3 linked regions of the Homo sapiens genome follow. The protein of the gene in region 1 interacts with the protein of each later gene in a biochemical or structural test. Each region holds a gene or a part of one and is shown in the gene's direction. Other genes may lie near its edges.

Region 1 (7,024 bases):
GAGACCTGCATCTCTACTTATATAAAGAAGTAAATAAAGTAAGTAAATAAATAAAGTGTAAACAGAATGGTGCCCTTACTGTCCCAGAAGTTGAGGAGGTCTTAAGTTTTAAAAAGTTCTGTTATTTTTCCTTTTGAGGGCTTGAGTATATCCTATTCCTTGTTTTAAAACTTAACAAGACTGAACTTTTGTGTCTCCCCTCAGAAAAGAATGGTTTGTCATTCATTGAAACTTCGGCCCTAGACTCTACAAATGTAGAAGCTGCTTTTCAGACAATTTTAACAGGTAAGACTTGTATTTTCAGATTACACCAGTAGGACTAGAAGTTTTAGGAAGGTAATTTAAACAAACTAATCAGTAACTAAACTATATATCAGCCGAGAGTGACTATCATTTGAGAGCTACTCTAGCAAAAGCTGTTTAGAGTGCAAAATTAACTACAACCCTTGCTCACTGAGCTTCAGTTGTCCTAATTCATCTGATTTATAGTGGGAAAAATACTTTGAAAATAATTCATTCACTTCCATTATTACTTCAGTCCAGGTATTCCATTCTTCATGGTCACAAAGTAATGTTTAAATGTACTTTTATGAGGTAAATATTGAGATCCCAGCTATAGAAAGATATAAATGCCCTTTTTTAAATTTAGTAAAGGCAAAGCTAGGGAAAAAACATTTTTAAAAATTATAGCGACAAAATAAAATTCTCCCATGATACAGAAGAAGGGTATCCCTTGCGTATTCTATATTGTATCATGGGAGATAATTGGTAGATAAAATCAGCCAATGATTGCATATAGAAAAGTTTTAAAAAGTAGTTGGAAAGAGATGGAGTTCATGCTGTTTTGGAATGTGAATGACCAGGTCAGCCTCTGAGATAAGAAGTGTTCACTCATATTTATCCTGAAACTATTAGAATAACCAGATTTATTAGTAAGATTAGTCTTAATCTTCTAATTAGTACTTTGATGGGTTGTTTTTAAATACTTTTAAATTGTATGTTACTTTTAAGAACTCATGATTTAAAATGTGGTCTTAATATATAGTATAGTTTTACGTGGCATTGTTCTAAAAAGTCTATACAGAGATATGATTGAGTTTCCAATTATAATGTAACAAGTTTTGATTTATTGTTTGTATGCAGCCCCTGTATTAGAGATTAACAGATTTTAACTTTAACATGTTATCTTCTTTTACTGTAAAAATGTAAGCGTAAAGTCAAGGAGTTAAGATTTGGAAGCCTGACTTGGGTTCTAGTCCTGGCTCCTCCACTTACTGTTAGTTGTACAATCTTAGGCAAGTTACCTAACCCTTTTAGGCCTTAATTTCTCCATCTATAAAATTCATATATATTTTGAGGAGTTTTGTTATTTCTTTTTTGAGAGAAGGCTTATATTTATAAAATCTTGTGATAGGATTTGACTTGACTTTTGTGACCTAAAGGTTTTTTGTCTCAGTAACCCTTAGCAAAGAATGGTCTGTCACTGCCCTAGACTTCAAAAATGAGTACCTGTAAAGTACCCATTTTGAATACTGTAAATTACTTATCTATCCCTGGTATATAGAGAACAGTTGGCAAATTAGTAGCTGAACGGCAATTAAGGCATGAGAAAATTGGAGATTTATGTACCTATTTTATTATAATTCTTTTCTGTTATCAGAAGAATAGTGCTGGGGTTGGATAAGCAGTCTTTGGAACACAGTAGCTTTCCTTTAGAATGTTCTCTGTCAAAGTTTCACTGCAGATTGTTTTAAGCAAGCAAGATTTGATTAAATATGTAGTATGTCTGCAAGTCCTTGTTTTCTTTATAGCCATTTGTGTACATTTTATTAAGTCAACATGTAGAGTACTAGATTGAGACCCAGGAGTTCTAGGGCATTACATTTTTATCACTTTGCTTCTACTCCCCGTTTAACTAAAGTCACTGAACCTCCCTGCTCCTCAGAGTCATAGTCTTAAAACATGTGAATTAAATTACCTTAAAGATGTGTGAGCATTTTAAGGCCTCAGAAAGTCTCATCTGAAAAAACTTTTTAGACAGTCCTCATTGTTGGAATATTTTTTATGTTCCATCAAATCTCCTCTGCTGTAATTCTGGCCCATTTATTCTGATATTAAGTGAAGATGAGCCCAAGTCTTCCATCTGCAGTTAACTATTTTATGCATCATTTTGTAACATTGAGCTTCTGATCCACTCAAACATGAACTAGTCGGTACTTAAAATTGAGCCCTTTAAGAGCTGGGCATGTTGATGCACGCCTGTAATCCCAGCATTTTGGGAGGCTGAGGCAGGCGGATCGCTTGAGCTCAAACATCCTAACACCTGTAGAACAACACAGATGTCTGCTGCCACATGCAGTGATCTCAAAAGTTCAAGACCAGCCTGGGCAACATGGTAAAACCCTGTCTCTAAAAAAAAAAAAAAAAAAAAAAAACACAAAAAAATTAGCCAGGCATGGTAGTGTGTGCGCCTGTAGTCCCAGCTGAGGTGGGAGGATTGCTTGAGCCTGGGAGGTTTAGGCTGCAATGAGCCGAGATCATGCCACTGCACTCCAGCCTTGTGGGCAGAGTGAGATCCTGTCTCAAAAAGAAAAAAAAAGATGAACATATAGTTGCTTTTCTTAAAATTCACTCTAGATTGAACTTTTGTTACAGCTTAATTGTTGCTTGAAAGCAAAGAAGACTTTAGTTTCACTTGCTACCACTTTTCCTTTCTATATTCACTGTTTCCTCAGCTTCCTGCATAAATCTCACTGTTGGTCTGTAGGATCAGAGATCACTGCATGTGGCAGCAGACATCTGTGTTGTTCTGCAGGTGTTAGGATGTTTGTTCTAAACTTTCTTCCTCCTGTATGCCAGTGGAAGTGTGAATGCATAGAGAAAACAGTGAAGAGGACAGACTCTTTATTGCACTTGATTCTACCTTAAATGTTAACAGTCTTAAGGGAGTATTTACGTTGTGTTTTGATATTGCTGAAAGAAAAAATAGCTTTAAAATTTCTAAAAATTGAGATGGAGCCCAGTCTGGTCTTGAATTCCTGAGCTCAAGCCATCTGCTTGCCTTGGCCTCCCAAAGTGCTGGGATTATAGGCATGAGCCACCATGCCTGGCCAAAAATTTTAAGTTGTAAAATTATATATCAGAAAATTTACATTGTTACTTCAGAGTTAATTGTGTTGTTGGTTTCAGAATAGACCCATGGCATTCTTGACACCCATGAATTTGAAAGTGACTCCATGAGATGATTTTGCTGATGGTATTTTTTTAGAGGTAGTTTACTAGTATGAGAGTGAGACTGGTAGATTGCTCCGCCTCTGAATTTCAGTACAGCTTTGTCTTTTCTCAGGTTCACTAAAGGATGTTTTTAATACATACCTTTTACTTTTTTATTTTAACTTTGCATTTTGACAATTTCAAATTTAAAGAGGTTGAAATAATAGTAAAAAGAATTTGCAAATATCCTTCACCCATATTCCTCAGATGTTAATATTTTACCACATCTGCTTTGTCCTTTTCTTTCTCTTCGCTCTAAATATATACATATTTTTTCGGCACCATGTGAGATTAAGTGGCAGACATGATGACCCTCATCCTTGAGTACTTTTCAGTGTATATTTTGTAAAAACAAGGATATTCTCTTTTATAGCCACAGTATAATTATCAAAATCAGAGAGTTAGATAATAGTGCCACATCAGTGTTTAATTACAGACCTTATTCAGATTTTGCCAGTTGTTCCAATAATACCCTTATTAGCCAAAGAAAGTCCAAGATCAGGTCATGCGTTTCATTCAGCAGTCATATCTCTTTAGTCTCCTCTAATCTCGAACAGTTCCTCAATCTTTTGTTTATTGACCTTGACATTTTTGAAGGGTACAGTCCAGTTATTTTGTTGTGTACCTCATTTTGGGCTTTTCTGATTTCTTTCCTCATGATTAAACTCAAGTTATACACTTTTGGCAGGAACACCACAGAAGTGTTCTCAGTGCATCATATCAGCAGGTTTGTGATAATTGGATGTCCTATTAATTACTAGTGATGTTAACTTTGACCACTTGGTTAAGGTGATGTCTGCTAGGTTTCTCCATGTAATTAATATGTCCAGGATATCTTTTTAGCATGAACACTAAATTCTTTTTTTTTTCCCCTGAGTCTTGTTCTGCCAGGCAAGACTCTGCCTCCTAGGTTCAAGCAATTCTCGTGTCTCAGCCTCCCGGGTAGCTGGGATCATAGGCCTGAGCCACCATGCTCTCTAATTTTGTATTTTAAGTAGAGACCGGTTTTACCATGTTGGCCAGGCTGGTCTCTAACTCCTGGCCTCACGTGATTCGCCTGGCCTCCTAAAGTGCTGAGATTACAGGTGTGAGCCACCGCCCCTGGCCTTATTCTGCTTTTGGTATGTCAGAAAATTTCCATAAAAAAAAAGTTAGAGATGTATTAACTGAATTACTACATTTTCCAAAATTAAGAACTAATTTCTCAGAAGTTGAAAAACAGTAAGCTGTAGTCAACTGAATATGTAAACTAACAAAAACAGACAGCAAGTGTATCTTTTCTTAGATTCTTTTGTGGGGGAAGGGGAGTGGCTAAAATTTATGTCTGAGAAGGTTGACAGTGGTTCAAATGTGAAGAGGCATTAAGGAAAGACAACTAGGATTCAATAAAGACAGGCTACTAAAATTAAAATTAAAAAAAAAAAGGATATGGAATCTTTATTTAGATTTTGTTTCAATGAAAAAGGATGGGATGGGAGGGTGCCAAGGCTAAAGAAAAGGATTTACCTTTCAGTCATTCAATCAGATGAGTGGCTAAGGAATAAAGATAATTAACTTGCATCTTTAAGCTTTCCCTCTAGTCTCAAACTGGGAGGCTCTTCTTTTTCAAGTGTAAATTATGTGTGTAAATTAAGATGAAATATGTAACCCACTGTAAGTTTTAACTTCCTTATAAATTGTTTTGAAGATTAAATTAGGGGAACCAAAACAAAGAAAAGTTCTTACATAAAAAACAAATATATGTAAAACTGGAAGAGAGGGAAAGGCAGACTTCTCAAAGAACATAGAGAAGTAAATAATTAAAGAGATCTCATTACAAAGCAAGAAATTTGAGCAGTGTTGGTGTGTTACAAGTACAGCATACTGTTTTTTAGAAATAGATTACTGCTGCACTTACTCCAGTTACCAAAAAGGATGTCTGCTAATAAAAATGCCACCAAAGCAATAAAGAGTGATTGGCTTTAAGAGGTTCCACAAGTAATTTACATACTTAAGTCTCTTGTGGCTGGGTGTGTCATTAAAAAAAAAAAAAAACCAAACCAAAAACCTGATAAGAAAGTAGGAAGCAGGTAACTTCTAGCTGTCTGATTAGAGAAGGTTATTTCATTGGGAGTTTTGTGGGGGTGGGGGGGTATGCTAAACTAGATCTATTTCCTTCTTTCAAAGGCATGTTCTCCTTTAGAACCAAATGAATATACCAATTCCTATGCAGTCGCCCCCACCGTTTTTTTTTTTTTTTGGAGACAGGGTCTCACACTGTCCCCAGGCTGGAGTGCAGTGGTGCAGTCTCAACCTCACTGCTCACTGAGTGAGACTCTGTCTCAAAAAAAAAGGCATTCTCCTACATAATCACAATACCATATGTCGTATCCAAGAAATTTAACATTTATACAGTTTTTTTTTTTTTTTTTTGAGACAGTGTGCTCTGTTGCCCAGGCTGGAGTGCAGTGGTGCTATCTCACTACAACCTCCCCTCCGGGACAAGCGATTCTCCTGCCTCAGCTTCCCAAGTAGCTGAGACTACAGGCGGGTGCCACCCCACCTGGCTAATTTTTTTTTTGTATTTTTAGTAGAGACGGGGTTTCACCATGTTTGCCAAGATGGTCTTGATCTCCTGACCTCGTGATCCGCCCGCCTTGGACTCCTAAAGTGCTGGGATTACAGGCGTGAGCCACCTCGCTTGGCCCATTTATACAGTTTTTAATGTGCAATCCATATTCATATTTCTTCAGTATACTAATAATGTCCTTTGTAGATTTGTTTTTTAATTAAAAAATTCAAGATCCATTTAAAGATCACATGTATAGGAGCCAAGGGAAGTGTCCCTATTGCCCTCTGAAGGTTTGCTGAAAGCTATCTGATACAGCTTTGGACCTTTCACGAGGTCCAAACGATAGGTAGAGGTTAGGAAGAAAAAGAATCCTGCTTTATCATTTTTATATCATTTAGATTTCTCTTGTAGGAGATCTAAATAGAAACCTCTGAAAGTTTGCTGGAAAATCAACTCACAAAAGGCATTTTAATTGGAGAAAAGGCATACGAAATTTATTAACATGTACACTGTACACTGGTTTTCTCTGGGGAGAACCAGAGAGATGACCCACCTCCCAATGGCATTCAGAGGCTTATGCCATTCTGGCAAAACAGGTTATGGGAAGGAGGAGAAAAGGAATTCTGTTGAGGGGATTACTGGGGAGGATGAACGGATCAGTGGACAGAAATTAATTGGTACATTATCTCGTGAAAGAGTCTGTTTAAGTGTGGTTACATTCTTGATCTTACAGGGAGGGGAAGAAAAAACAATTGTCCCTTTTAGTGGGTCTGGATCTCAGGCAGATGAAGGAACTTCAGCTTCATCCTGTGCCAGGGAGAGAGGATGAGGGGGAGAAGGTCAGAGAGACCTTGAGGCTTCTTTAGTTCAGCATATCAAAACGCCATTTTGGAGTATGGGTTTCTGAGCCTTAACAGATGGAATTGTTTTGTATCTGGGATGTTGAATAAAGTAGCCACAGGTTACTATTGAGCACTTGAAATGTGGCTAGTTAGATGAGGAATTGGATTTTAAATTTTATTTAATTAAAATAGATGGCTACTCTCTTGGATAGCACAAATTTAGAACATTTATCCCCATCTCAGTCTGGATTTATCTCATTATTTCCTCATGATTAAATTAGTTTTAAATATTTTTGTCAGGAATACATGGTGTCCTTTATAGGAATACATTGTGTCTTTCCTAGTACATCGTATTAGG
Region 2 (7,024 bases), on another chromosome or scaffold:
TTTGAGGGGCTAAGGACAGGACAAAACCCTGAGGTCCCCTCAGTGGCATCTCAGGGCTCTGTGCTCTGGGATTGTGCCAACCTTTTGAAAGGGGGTCTGGTCTTCAGGGTCTGTGATGTGTAGCCAGGCCTTTACTGGCCTCTGTCTTCTCAGGGTACTCAGGGCAGGAGTATATGCATTCTGCTTTTCTGAAAGTTGCTAAACCTTAAAGGTTAAGGACATGGGCTTGGAGGCTGGCATTTTCATGTTCAAGTTCCAGCTCCATTACTTACTAGCTGTGTGGCCCTGGGCAACTTACAAACCATCTCCACAACTTAGTTTCCTCATCTGTAAAATGGGCCTCCCATCTCCTGGGCTGGTTGCATGGATAATAAAAGAGCTGCAGAGCCAGGCACACAGTGAGCCCTCAGCAGGGTCAGCTCTGGCCATTCTCTAGCCCCCTCATGTGCAGCCCTCTGCTCAGGTGTGGCCTCTGGGCCAGCAGCAGCATGGGTAGCTGGGAGCTCTCTCAGGTCCACCTACACTTTGGGTATCAGAATACACATTTTAACAAGATCCAGTGATTTTTTTTTGCACTTTGCAGTTTGAGAAGCACTGATGTGTGTCTTCTGAAGAGCAGCATCAGTAGCTGCGTGTGCCTCTTCAGGTGCAAGGAATTTTCTCTTACTGTGCCTTTTCTTACTGTGTCCATCATGTCCTGGCTGCAGAGGCACCTGGGACAAGTCCCAGATAATCACCATCTTCATCAAAACCCTTGTGTCCTGAGCATGTGCTGGCTGGGCCTTGGAGAGTTCAAGTGCCCCAGATGGTGCCCCTGACAGAGAGATGAAGTCAAGGTGGGTGCTTTGCAGGTGGAGCAGCTTAGTTCCTGCAGTGAAGGATGTGCCAGTTAGTGATATATGTGCTGCAGGCAGCCCGGACTCTGAGCACCAGGTGGGTGTCAGGGGAATTGTATGGGGGCAGAATCACTGTCCTTCCTCCTGGTTTGGTGAGAGTGTTGTTTCTCCAGTGGTTTCTGATCTAGGAGGCCTAATTCATCTTAACACTCTTAATTTCTAGAAAGTGCTTAATGCTGCCTGCTCCTCCCCAGTGTGTTCCTTTGGTAACTTACCCCCTCCTGGGGGAGGGATGAGTATTTCTAGGGTCAGTCCTCTCAGAAGCAGCGTGTCCTCGGGACTTGGGAAGGCAAGCCTTACTGGGCAGGAGAAAGACACAGGTTTCTCCTGGGTACCGATTGAGTGTCCTTAAGGACAAGCCCAGGTGGAGAGCCCAGGTGGCCGCTGACCTTAAAGTGATGTAAAGCGTTAGGGACCATCCTTGTGGTTCCCACATGGGGTCTGGGTGAATTCACTCACCTGTGGGGCCCCACCCCCAAACCCACTGAGAAATATAGATAACCAGGCCGGGACCTTCTAGTTCAGTAAGTCTGGGTGGCGTCTTGGGTGGATTTATATCTGTATATAAATCCTGCACCGATGCATAGCAGGTTTGGGTGCTACAGCTGTGGAGCTGTGAAAATGAGAGCTGTCTTGTGAGCCATTGTCTAGATGAATGTTGGGGCCTTGGTCACACCCTGATTGATTTTGGCCATGTCTCTGCCCTGGATGAAAGTGACAGGTCAGGCCTCAGCTTGGGCTTTGGAGTTCCTAAGCCCAGTGCCCCAGTCAGCTAGGCCTGGTGAAGGGCACAGAGAGGGAGAAAAAACCTTGATCAGGTAGGGAGGAAGGAACAGTAGCAGAATCTCCAAAACTGGAGACCAGGGCCTATCTCTTGCACAGCCAGACTTGGGAAGTTGAGGTTGGATTTTTTTTTTTTTTTTTTTTTTTTTGAGACAAAGTCTCACTCTGTTGCCCAGGCTGGAGTGCAGTGATATAATCTTGGCTCACTGCAACTTCCGCTTCCCAGGTTCAAGTGATTCTCATGCCTCAGCTTCCCGAGCAGCTCAGATTACAAACGTGTGCCACCACACCCAGCTAATTATTGTATTTTTAGTAGACACGGGGTTTCGCCATGTTGGCCAGGCAGGTCTCAAACTCCTGGCCTCAAGTGATCTGCCCGCCTTGGCCTCCCAAAGTGCTGGGATTGCAGGCATGAGCCACCATGCGCGTCCGAGGTTGAATATTTATTAAAGGATCTGGCACGTTCCCTTGAAGGCTAGGCAGAGCGATCGGCGTCAGGGATTCAAGAGCAGGAGTCCTAAGAGCTCACGGTCGTGGGAGAGAGTGAGAGGATAAGCTGGTTTTGCCAACCAGGCTTGGCGTGCCTTAGCCTCCCAACAGCCAAGAGGATGGTTGTCCCCACCTGAGGGCCAAGGAAGCGGAGGCTGAGGGAGGTGACCTGGTCAGTGGGGGACCCAGCACTCACCACCATGCCCTGCTGTCAGGCGCATCCAGATGAGAGCTGAGAGAGGGCCCTGCAGGGTTGTAACAGCTCCAGACTGTGCATGCATGATTTCTTTACTTTGGAGCTGTGTGCCCCAGGGGATACTCAGTCAATATCCACAAGAAACACAGTCCAGCAAGGGAGACCTTGGGTGCCCAGGACATGACAACACCAGGGGGTCCTGGGGCACGGTGCTGCCAGATCTGGCTGTAGAGTGAGTTTGGTTCAGAGTGTGTATGCCTGGTCAGAAAGAGGAGGGACTGGGCCAGGCCAGCAGGATGGTGGCAGCTGAGGGAGCTTCCCAGAGGAGTGGGACTTGAACTAGGTCATAGGACCCTGCTGTCATATTCCCCGTGGGGGCTTCAGTCTCTAGGGATGAGGTGCTCAGAGCCCATTTGCTCTGCTGCGTGTGGGGCTCTGTGAAAAGAAAGCCTCCATTTGTTTTCATTGCGGATTCCTCAGCCCCCCTCGACAGTGTTCATAGTTTTCCATTCTCCAGTGGACCTCCATGGTGCCCGACAGGTCTGTGGGGCTGTCTGGTCCAGGCACAGGGAAGTAGCACCTCTAGGGAGGGGGAGGATGTGGCCATCTCAGCTCATGTAGGCCATACTTCTGGGAGAAGGTCTGCTCTGGTTGAGTCCCTGGGGTGCCCAGGGTGGCCAAGGTGCCAGGCAGTATCCCATTCAGTCCTGCCCTTGACTGGGTTGCAGAGGGAGGTGGGGCTGGAAGGGAGGTGGACGAGTGATGGCAGCTGGGGTCCAGAGGTAGGTCCTGGCCATTCTCCATTTCACTGTGCTCTGGATGGGAGAGCCTAAAAAATATTCAGGGAAGCTTTTTCTTTTTCCTTCCGTGCTTCCTTGAAAAACAAGTCCAGGGAGAAACCCAAATTCCCTGTGGGGGAGGGCTGGGCAGAACAGGAGAAGGGGAAGTGACCTTATAGGGGAGAGAGGCCCAAAAGGTCCTTGTGGCAAAGGACCTGAAACTCGGCCTCCCGCCTTCCTCTGAGGGCTGGGAGGCAGAGGAGCACGGCCCATTTTGTGGCTCAGGAAGCTGAGATGAGATAGGAGCAAGAGCTTTCCCTTGTCTCTTTTTCCTATTACCACAGTAATATATGCTCCTTATAAAACATTCAAATAGGACAAAAATAGACAATGTAGGAAGTGCTAGTTCCCTGCAATCTCACCACAGGGCCCCGGTCCCCTCAGGTAATTGCATTACCGCTGTGGTGTGTGCAGTGTGAGTAGCTGGGGCTGAGGGCCCCTGACCTGTCTGCCCCAGCAAAGGCTGGCTGTGCTTGCTGATCCTAGTTACTCAGGGCTTGGGCGGTTTGGGGCTGGAGTCCATACCCTTCTCTTTTGCCCTACCTCCCAGGACTTTCCTGTGCTAGATAGGGCCTAGCCCAGATTTAGGGAAAGTGACTAGGGCTTGGCCTCTAAATAGGTAAAGGGTCAGGCCCACGGTGGTCACTGGGCTGAGAACGTAGAGGTGTGAGGCTGTTGATGCTGCTGGCTGGTCTTTCTGTCAAACTTCCTCTCCTGCCCCACAGACACCCTCACATACATCCTCCAGTCTGTCTGTCTCAATTAGCCTCTCCTCCCCTCACTTCTGCCCGTGCCTTATGAGAGAGGCACCCGCTCGGGCATTTTCTCTGTCCGCCCTGCCTGTGGCACCATCTGTTCCTACCCGGCCTTCTCAGGGGATTGTCTCTCAGGTTTGGGAGGGAAAACCAAAGTCTAGGCTCAGGCCGCTCAGGCTGCGGAGTAGGTCTCCACGGAGGGGACGGGCCATAGCCCACCAGGATTTCGTCATGATGGGCTCTTCTATAGGGATGTAGAAGAGTCAGAGGTGCCCCAGGAAGCCTTTTTAAAAAAACTTCAACATTAAAAAATAATCAAAATACTACCACCACTACCACCAAGCTTTTGCTGTGACTTAATTCTGGATCTTTGGATGTATAGGGACTTTTCATACAAAGGCTCCCCACACCCCACTCTGTGTCCACCAGAAGCTCAGGGAGCTGGCATTGTTGGGGGCAGAGCTCAGGCGGGAGGTGGATCCTGCATCACTGACTGCGGCTTGGGTAGCTCTGTGTGCGTGTGTGTGTGTGTGTATGTGTGTGTGTGCTGTGCAGTCACCAAGGGACTTTGAGCCCTTTAGTGACCAGCCTGACCACTACCACCGGGCTTTATTCCACCTTCATGCTCGATTGGCTGGGTCTGGAATTCCAGGCTAGTGGAAGGCTTTTCCCTCAGAAATGTGAAGACATTCCTTCATGTGGTGCCCAGTGTTGCTAAGGAAGACTCCAGTGCTGTTCGAATCCTTTCATGCCTGGTGTTCTAAGCCTCATAGTCATATCTGTTGGCATGTGTCTGTCTTAGTTCATTGCGCTGCATACTTGTAGGACTGTTCTAGCATTCATGTTCTTCAGTTCAGAAAAACATTCTTGTATGATTTCCTTCATAGTTTCTTCCTTTTTGTGTTCCCTGCTCTCTTTTTTTTAGTTAATAAAGTCTATTTTTCAGAGCAGTTTTAAGTTTACAGAAAAACGAGTGAAAAGTATAGAGAGTTCCCATCTACTCCACCCACGCCCCCACCGCCATTTCTTCTGTTAACATCTTGCATTAGTGTGGCATGTTTGTTGTATTTGAGAGCCAATATCAACACGTCATTGTTAACTAGAGTCTATACATTATGTTAGGGTTCACTTGCTGTTTTGTGCATTCTGTGGGTGTATAACAATGCATGTCCACCATTACGGTAGCATGCAGGATAGTTTTTCTCTCCTGAGAAGTCCCTGTGCTCTGCCTATTCATCGCTCTGTCCTCTCTTCAATCCCCCAGCAACCACTGATCTTTTCACTGTCTCCATAGTTTTGCCTTTTGCAGAATGTCAAATAGTTTTGTCGTGCAAGCATGAAGCCTTTTCAGATTGTCTTCTTTCACTTATGTATGTAAGATCCATCCGTGTCTGTTCATGGCTTGATAGCCTATTTATTTTTATCATTAAGTAGTATTCCATTGTCTGGATGTACCACAGTTTGCTTATCTTTTCACCTACTGGAGGACACCTTGGCAGCTTCCAAGTTTTGGCAATCATGAACAGAGCTGCTATAAACATTTGTGTGCAGGGTGTTTCTTTGGACATAAGTCTTTACCTCAGTAGGCAAAGTACCAAGAAGTGTGATTGCTCCTTGTGTGATCGGAGTTTGCTTAGTTCTCTAAGAAACTGCCAACCCCTGCATAAGAACATCTCTCCCCAGTAGGGCGGGCCCCAGCCACCCTGTGTGGTGGCCATGTGTGTTGGGGGCTGTCTCTGTGTCTCTCTGGGCACAGTGGGTGTGCACCGGGAAGAACTTAAGCTTTGGAGGGCTGGACACCTGGCTCTGAGTCTCCACGGATGGGTTCCTTTACCACTGAGCCTCACCCTCCTGATCTGTACAATGGGGTAGTACCTCTTACCTCATATGCTTTTTGGGAGGTATGTGCGGGAGTGAGGTAAGAACCCTCATGCTGGTCGTAATGCACCATAGATGCTCAACAGATATGAGCGCTCTTCGTCTTTCCTGGGTCTCTTTCTGCCATTCTTGTCTGTTCCTGCATCTTGTAGAGGTATTCCTGACAGGGCTTGGGGTGAGTCAGTGTGTGAGTGAGGTGTGTGTGTGTGTGTGTGTGTGTGTGTGTGTGTATACATACATGAGTGTATGCACTAGCATTCCTGTGTTCCTGGCCCTGGGCCTCTGGGTGAGCTGTTCTTTCCTGGGCTCACGGTGGCTGGGAGCAGAGCTTTGGCTGGGACTGGCCAGAGGAGATGATGTCAACAGGGAGAAATGTGGGTAGGTCTGTCTGTGCTGGGGCCTGGAGATGGGAGGGCTCTCCCAGGCCCAGCCTCACCCCTCTGGGCCTCAGAGTTTCAGATGTAGGGGAGATGGGGCAGAGGAGAGGTCTCTGAGCACCAGGAGAAGGTCCTGGGGTGGGAGGAGGCATGGTGTGGTAACCGCCGCCCTACCTGGTGGCACCCGAGGAGCTTCCCCACTCAGGATGTGGTTTTCTCCATCATGGAAATGTTTTGGATAGTTTCTCAGCTGCATCTGAAGCCTGGAAGCCCAGGCCGATGGGTCAGAGCAGGAGCCTTTGGGGAGAGGCTATCAGTGGCTCTCAGAGCAAGGAGGGGTCTGGGCAGTGCCTGGTACCGGGCGGGAGCCAGGCTCCCTGGGCCCGTGACTGAGTTCTGCCTGCTCCCCTCTTCTCACAGGTGGTACAAGCTGCACTCCAAGCCAGGCAAGAAGGAGAAGGAACGCGGCGAGATTGAAGTCACCATCCAGTTCACGCGCAACAACCTGAGCGCCAGTATGTTTGACCTGTCCATGAAGGACAAGCCAAGGTCTCCCTTCAGCAAGATCAGGGACAAGATGAAGGGCAAGAAGAAGTATGATCTGGAATCTGCCTCTGCCATCCTCCCAAGCAGCGCCATAGAGGATCCTGACCTGGGCAGCCTGGGCAAGATGGGCAAAGCCAAAGGCTTCTTCCTCCGCAACAAGCTGCGCAAGTCGTCCCTGACCCAGTCCAACACCTCGCTGGGCTCGGACAGCACCCTGTCCTCAGCCAGCGGGAGCTTGGCCTACCAGGGACCTGGCGCCGAACTC
Region 3 (7,495 bases), on another chromosome or scaffold:
TGATTGCATTAAGGGTCCACCTAGCTAACCCAGAATAACCCCCCTGTCTCCAGATCCTGTTGTTTTTTTTGTTGTTAGTTTTTTTTTTGTTTTTTTTTTTTTTGGAGGCAGGGTCTCACTCTTGTCACCCAGGCTGGACTGTAGTGGCATGATCTGGGCTCACGGCAACCTCCACCTCCTTGGCTCAAGCCATCCTCCTGCCTCAGCCTCCTGAGTAGTTGAGACTACAGATACATGCCACGATGCCCAACTAATTTTTGTATTTTTTAGTAGAGACAGGATTTCATCACATTGCCTAGGCTGGTCTCGAATTACTGGACTGAAGCAATCTGCCTGCCTCAGCCTCCCAAAGTGCTAGGATTACAGGCGTGAGCCACCACGCCCAGCCTCCAGATCCTTAATTACATCTGCAAAGACCCTTTTTCTAATGAGGTAACATTTACAGCAGGGGTCCCAACGCCCAGACTGCAGACCATTACCAGTTCATGGCCTGTTAGGAACCACAGCAGGAGGTGAGCGCCGGGTGAGTGGGCATTACCGCCTGAGCTCCACCTTCCGTCAGATCAGTGGCATTAGATTCTCATAGAAGCGGGAACCCTATTGTGAATGGCGCAGGAGGGGGATCTAGGTTGCGCACCCCTTATGAGAATCTGAAGCCTGATGATCTAAGTTGGAACAGTTTCATCCCAAGACCCTCTTCCCCCGACTTGTATGAAACCAGTCCCTGGTGCCAAAAAAGGTTGGGGACCACTGATGTACAGGGATTGGAATATAGATATCATTTAAGGGGGCATTTTTCAGCCTACCATGCCATATTTGTCCATTCCTTAATTTATTCCTACACAGACCCTAACTATGTGTGTATGGGCATTATTTAGGAGCTACAGAAATCAGGAGAGAAATAGACACAGTCCCTGCTCCCAGGGACCTCATGGTCACTCCTGTGACCTTTCATACAGTTTCCCAGATAATCCGGTGATAGACAATAGGAGTAAGATGGTAAGGATAGTCACAAGGACAATAGCTGTCACTAACCAGCAGCACTGTTCTGACACTTACAATGTATGTATTAACTTACTGACTCTCACCACAGCCTTATCCATACCTGTAAGTGGGCTGCAGTCTGTACTTTTCACTTCTCTGCAGGAGCACATGGGAGAGGTGGTCAAGGTGGGCAAGGAGTGGGGTGGTCATGAAAGGCTTCCGGTAGGAAGTGCCACTTCCACAACACAAGGACAGGAATTAGAGAAAGTGGAATTGGGTGGGGGTAGGATTGAGACCTCCCACCCACTAAGCAAAGGGAGGCAGGAGGGAGCCTGGATGCTCCCAGACTAGGGTTAAGGAGAGGCAGGAGAGTATGAAGACACTGCACAATGCCAGCTCAGGCAATGGTGGCCATTGAGTTTTCAGCAGGGGAGGGACCTGATCAAACTTGTTTCTTCCTAGAGAAGGGGCCGGAGTCCCAACTGTCCCTTCCATGTATATTTCCCAGTATATTTCCAGCCTGCCCAGGCTGCTGCAGCTGTTGGAAATCCCCTGGAGAATCAGAGGTCACCTGGAGGAAGCGGAGGACAGAAAGGAGGCTCCGCGCCTTCCCGCCCTATCCATGGGGACCTCTTGCTTTCCTGGAGCAACCCCCTTCACCCTGCAGCCGGCCCTGACATGGGTATTCTCTTGCTGCTTCTGCTCGGGGCTGCACTCTGAGCTCTTGGATCAGGGTTTTGGGAGCCCTAGTGGTCCCAGGTCCACTTCCAAGGACCCAAGGACTCCATAAATTGCACCATCTCTGAGGGACCTTTGGGTAGGCACTCAGCCATTTCTGCAGGCCCTCTTGGGCTCCTAGAGCCTGGCACCTCAGTGTAGATCACACTGGGCCATGACTGCCCCCATCAAGTTCAGCAAGTGGCTGCACCCCTTTCACTGTCTCCCTAGCATACCCAACACAACGTAGGTGCTCAACAAAAACGTGACAACCCCAGAAAGAATGCCTGTGACGTGCTTTGCTGGCCCCAGCAGCACAGCGGTGAGCAAGAGACCCAGTGCCACTGGTGGGGGAGGCAGGTGTCCTTCAAACCATCGCCCACCAGAGACAAAACTGCAGAGACCTGGGCAAGGAGAGTCCGGTCAGGGAAAGCTCTCCTGGGGGATTTTTGAATTTGTGATGATCCTGTCTTTGACAAGAACTGGCTAATCTGGTTGCGGGATTCTGTCTTGGTTCACTTGGGATTTGTTCATGCTCAGGTCTGAGGTCCCCGCCTCTGCCAGCTGAAGTGGGTGAGTCTTCCAGCTCCCCTGTCCCCAGTTAGGGGGCATTCAATGCCAGGCTGAGCGCGGAGAGCCATTTCTGCAGCCCCCACCAGGGGGCAGCCCCAGCTCCTGGCCATCTCCTTTCTGTGCTGAGCCCCTTGGGTGAGAGAAAATGGCACGAGCTGACCTTGGACGAACTAATATCGGGGTCCCAGGGGCAGGCAGCAGCCCCCAGCTTCCACTCCCTACCTCCTTGCCAGGGGGCTGGCTGGATCTCCAGCAGCCAGTCTCTCCCAGCCAGCTGCTTGTCCTTATTCTCCACTTCCACCTCCATTTTGCAGGGTAGGTCGGGGGAAAGCAGCATTGCTTAGATTCGCTCTCATCTTCAGTTGCCCTAAAAGGAAGGTACTATTATCCTCACGGTACAGGCGAGGAAACCGGCTAAAATATGCTAGTATCCTGCTGAGCGGCATCCAGCTAGCAGAGACGCTCCTACTCAGCCGAATACCCCTACTCCACTCCCACGGCCTCCCCTTTCCCGCTTTCTCACATTTCGGACTCCTCAATCCTCAGAACCACAGGTCTCTCTTCCCAAGAGGTGTTGCCTTTCGTGGCTCTCAGACGAACTGAAGGGTCAAAGGAGAGTAGCTAAAAGCCAGGTTCATCCCAGGAGCCGGGGCTGGAAAGAAGAGGTCCCCGCCCACTGTCAGAAGGCAAATGGCAGTCCCTGCGCAGGATATATTCAGGGTTGAGCAGGAAGACCACAGAGGTACAAACCGAGGCCCAGCTAGGGGAGGCCATGCAGTTCACCCCGTACTCCCTGTCTGCGCCACTACGTTGCTCCCGGCTCCTCACATAATGGGCGGGCCCATCCCCTCTGGGTGGGGCTTCCTCTGGGCCCACTCTTGCCTGGAGATCAGGGACTTGAAGGTAATTAAGACATATCTTGCCCTGGAGGGCTTCCCAGCATGGTAGGGGAAATGGGCATCCCACTAGAGAATTAAGAATTAACTGGGCACCTGGAAGAAGGGCTTAGAACTCAGAATAGAAGATAAGATGGCGTGCCATCAGAGAAGCCTTCCCGGAGGAGGAAACCTCTGTGCTGAGCATGACAGCATAGGTGGGAGTAGACTCAGCCAAGGCCTTTTTTTGGGTTGGGGCCAGTCGTTGCCACAAAGACCTGATGTGCCGAGCAAGAAGGTGGAGAGAAGAGCCCGGCCGGGTCCTGCAGGGCCCCGAGGCTGGGCTGGGAAGTTAGCACAAGCTGGGGTGGAGGCTCCGCTGAGCACTAATGGGAGGAGGCCAGGGTCCTGACCTAGAGCCTGCGGCCAGCGGGACAGAGATTCTGTCCTGGATTCTCTGAGCTTGGGGCATGCGGGCTGCCAGGGAGGTGTGATGGTGGGAACCCGGCGAAAGGGAGGAAGCCTCTTCCAGGCGTGGAGCAGCCTTGGGCCCTGAACAGGCAGGCCTCTGGAAGCGCCTCGCTTTTCCTCCCTCCGGCCTCATCCTGGTTTTCTCCTCATCTCCCCGTCGCAGGGTCCCGGGTCCAGGCTGGGGTTCAGTTGCCTGCTCCTCCTCTCTGTGCCCTCCCCCGCCCGATGGCCCCACAAGTGCTGTCTTGCAGGAGAGCGCCGGGAGACCGCAGGGCGGAGGTGAAGAACGGAGTCCAGAGCCCTCCAGAGATGGCAGCGAATCCCGGCCCTGCCTCTTGCCAGCTGTGTGGCCTAGAGTGAGTCCGACCTCTCTGGGCCTCAGCTTCCTCCGGGATGAATGCAGTCACGGAACGCGCCAATGCAGGAGGCCCCCAGGACATCCTGAGCGCTCGGGAGACGCCAGGCGCGGCAGCGGGCACGGATAGCGGAAAGGGGCGCGACCCCGCGGAATCCTCCGGCAGGGCAGGGCCTTTGGGTGGCTCCGGGTGTCCAGAGGAAGGGGTGGGCTCGGGGACGCGGAGGGAAACTGGGGACGCGGAGGGAAACTGAGGTCGCGGAGGACGCGGCCGTTGGCAGCTCGCTGCGCCTGCCGGCCCCGCGTGGGCCGCCCCACTCGGGAGGACGCGGGCTCCTTTTGTCTGCAGCGTCCCCGCCGCCGCCGCCCCCGCCGCCTCCCCCTCTCCCTCCCATTTTCGCCGCGGCCCCCGCCCCTCCCCTCCCCGCCCCCTATTGCCCCTCCTCCTTCCCCTCCCCACTCTTCTCCTTCCCTCCCCTCCCCTCCCTTCCCCTCCGGAGCGGCTGGGGCTGCGGCGCCGCTGCTGACACGGATCGGCCGCGGCCGCCACCGGGCGGAGGCTGCGCGGCGCAGACCCAGACGGGCGGCCCCGGAGGGCGCGCGGCGATGGCGGCGGCGGGCAGGCGGCGGGCGCGGCGGGCGAGGGGTCCGGGCTGAGCTGCGGGCCGGCCCGGATGGCGGGCGGCGCGGGCTGGTCGGGCGCCCCCGCGGCTCTGCTGCGCTCCGTGCGCCGCCTGCGCGAGGTGTTCGAGGTGTGCGGCCGCGACCCCGACGGCTTCCTGCGCGTGGAGCGCGTCGCGGCGCTCGGACTGCGCTTCGGCCAGGGCGAGGAGGTAAGCTGGCCCGACCCCAGTCCCGGCCCGGGGACCCCAGCCCAGCCCCGCCGCCCCTCCCCCAGCTCCCCCGCCGGGTCACCCGCGTGGCCCGAGGCGGTGGCCTCCCTCCCAATCCCCTCCCTCCGCCGGAGCCCAGGACCTCGGCCCCCCCCGGGTATCCCTGGCCCAGCCGGGCCCTCGCTTTCCGCCCCCCGGCGCCCGTGCCCCGAGCGTCACGCGTCACGCCTAGGGTGGCTTCTGCGCCCACCTTCCTTCCTCGGCCATGCAGGTCCTTCTGAGCGGTCTGCACATCCACCCTTGTCTGGGGGAGAGAGCTGCCAGAATCCGGCCCTAGGCTCCCCACCCCACCCGGCGCTGCGGAGACCAAGATGCAAGGGTCTGTGTACGTCCTGCTGGGCCGGGCCAGGGGGTGAAAGGGACCGGTAGGGGTGCTCTGCAGCCTTGGCTCCTCGGCTGCACACACCCTGCCCAGACACGGAAGGAGGTGTCTGCTGGGGCCACCGTGTACTCCCGGGCCAGTGTCGGGTGACCTCTCATTCAGGCTCTGCTGGGCAGCCAGGCTGGCAGCTGGCTGTGTTGGTTGCAGCAGGCCAGGCAAAGCCAGGCTCGGGGAGTGGTGGCTGAGCAGAGGGCTTTCATGTGGCGGGGCCGCATCTATTTGGGGAAAGCAGGACTTACGTAGATTGTTAACAGGGCTGGAAGCGGAGGGTCGGTGCCGCCAGTAGGGTGGACGGAGTCATATCACTAAACGCACACTACACCAGTGTCCTCTGGTGCCACCGGCATGGGGACTGGGGACTGTGTCTCAAGGGGAGGACAAGACACCCACCTGGCTGAAATGGTCAGGGGTTTCCCCTGGAGCCAAAAGCCCTGAGAAGTGGGTTTCCAAGGCCATCTAAGGCCTCAGGCCCTGCATGGGGGGCCTGGGGCCATGGGCCTCAAATGGGCACTGGCTGGCATTGTGTTCCCAGAACAGGTCGGACCAGGCATTTCAGAACATGGGAGAAGCTGGGTGATGGCCAGGTTGGGCCCGTGCCTCTGCGTCACCAGAGAGTGGGAGGCGATTGAGAATCATCTCTCCACCCGCACCTGGGCATGGGCCGGGACTTGTGAGTCGCTGAGAGCTGTGGGCAGAAGAGAGTGAGGCAGCTTCAGGGCTTGAGAACTCAGGTACCCACCACAGGAAAGACCACTGCAGTGCCTGTGAGAGCCCAGACTGCCCTCTGCGGGGCTTTGCTGAGGGACACTGCCTGCTGCCACCATGACCCTTCTTCCCCAAAGGCCAGCCAAGCCCTTCCGTTTTTCCAGTGGCTCCCATCTGGGGCAGGCTGAGCAGACTCCTGGCATGGGGATAGTCGCGCTCCTTCCTCTCAGAACACAGACTGCAGGTCGGGTAAAGAAGCTACCAGCTCTGGCTGAAACCTGGAGTCCCCGAACTCAGAGCCTCAGTAGTGGGAAGGGCCTCCCAACAACCTCTGGCAGGGGCCACCGGCCTCAGCCACGTGCCCAGCAAGCCTCACCCACTTCTCCCCCAGCTGGACAGTTCCTGCCATTAGAACCTTCTCCCTCATACACTCTAGAGACAGACCTGCTTGTCACTTAGTCATCACCGTTCTGCACGGGGACTCACATAGGTCTCTCTTCTTTGGGGGAGCCTTTAAATATTTGAAAATAGCACTCCTGCCCCTTCTCTCCTTCCCAGCTCCATACTCCCATTTTCCCTTCTCCAGGCCAAATACCCCAGTTCCTGAAGCCCTAGGCCATTTCCATGTGACCCAGTAGCCAGACCTCTGGCTTCTGGCCTTGGAGCTGCCATCGACTAATTCTGTGATTCAGTTTTCCTAGCAATAACATGAAAGGGCTGGACAAGCAGACCGCCCCCCGCCGCCCCCACCAGGACTATATTAGCCCCAAGACCTCACACATATGCACACAGCTTAGGGTGGGGCTGCCTCTGAATGGGGCACTGCACTCTGCTTATATTAAGTTTCTGGCCACCGAAACCTCCAGGGATCTGTTTTAGAAACCTCTGCCAAGCCAGGGATTCTCCACCCTTCGGGGAGGGTCAGTGATTTTTTTCTTTTAAAAGCATACTCTGAGATTACTACAGAAGCGGTGGATATGCATTGCAGAAAACTGGAAATAGGGACAAGCAAAATAAAAAGTATTGTGTCCTATCTCTCAGGCAGCGCCTCAATGACACTTCTGTCAGACCTTTCCAGAGCTGTTTCCATGCTTATATGTCAATTTTCTCCAGAAAATGAGATCATACTGTGCATACTGTTTTGTAACCTGATTTTTTTTGCCGGTAAATGATCATGACTTTTCTGCTTCAATAAATTTTCATCTGGTTTAATATGCAGACCTTTTTCAGATTTCCCTATTTGACCCCAAAATGTCCATTTTTGCTGTTTCCTCTCCAGGACTGTGCAGTGTATGTGGTTGTTGTCACCTTTTAGTCTCTCTTACTGTACACAATTCCTTTTTCTTTTCTTTTCTTTTCTTTTTTCTTTTAACAATCCTGGCTTGTGGAAGCATTCGGGCCTGTTGTCTGTCAGTAATTTCTGGAATCTAAGCCTGTTTCTTGGCCCTTATTCCCATTTAATTTCGTCTTGTTCATTTCATCACATTGTATCTGTCAAGAAAGAGAATCTAGCATCCTACCTCTATCACTCTCAGCTGTG

Evidence for each region. The genes of interacting proteins can lie anywhere in the genome.
Region 2: the proteins of RAB11A (region 1) and RAB11FIP5 form a complex in vitro, tested with the Homo sapiens proteins (2 studies listed by BioGRID).
Region 3: the proteins of RAB11A (region 1) and RAB11FIP4 form a complex in vitro, tested with the Homo sapiens proteins (2 studies listed by BioGRID, with this or other methods).

The regions. Positions count from the first base shown.
Region 1 is NC_000015.10:65,879,467-65,886,490, forward strand, and holds part of RAB11A (ras-related protein Rab-11A), read left to right. Parts: intron 1-204; coding exon 205-285; intron 286-7,024. UniProt on the Homo sapiens protein: The small GTPases Rab are key regulators of intracellular membrane trafficking, from the formation of transport vesicles to their fusion with membranes.
Region 2 is NC_000002.12:73,088,925-73,095,948, reverse strand, and holds part of RAB11FIP5 (rab11 family-interacting protein 5), read left to right. Parts: intron 1-6,633; coding exon 6,634-7,024. UniProt on the Homo sapiens protein: Rab effector involved in protein trafficking from apical recycling endosomes to the apical plasma membrane. Involved in insulin granule exocytosis. May regulate V-ATPase intracellular transport in response to extracellular acidosis.
Region 3 is NC_000017.11:31,387,204-31,394,698, forward strand, and holds the start of RAB11FIP4 (rab11 family-interacting protein 4), read left to right. Parts: upstream 1-4,471; 5' UTR 4,472-4,649; coding exon 4,650-4,808; intron 4,809-7,495. UniProt on the Homo sapiens protein: Acts as a regulator of endocytic traffic by participating in membrane delivery. Required for the abscission step in cytokinesis, possibly by acting as an 'address tag' delivering recycling endosome membranes to the cleavage furrow during late cytokinesis.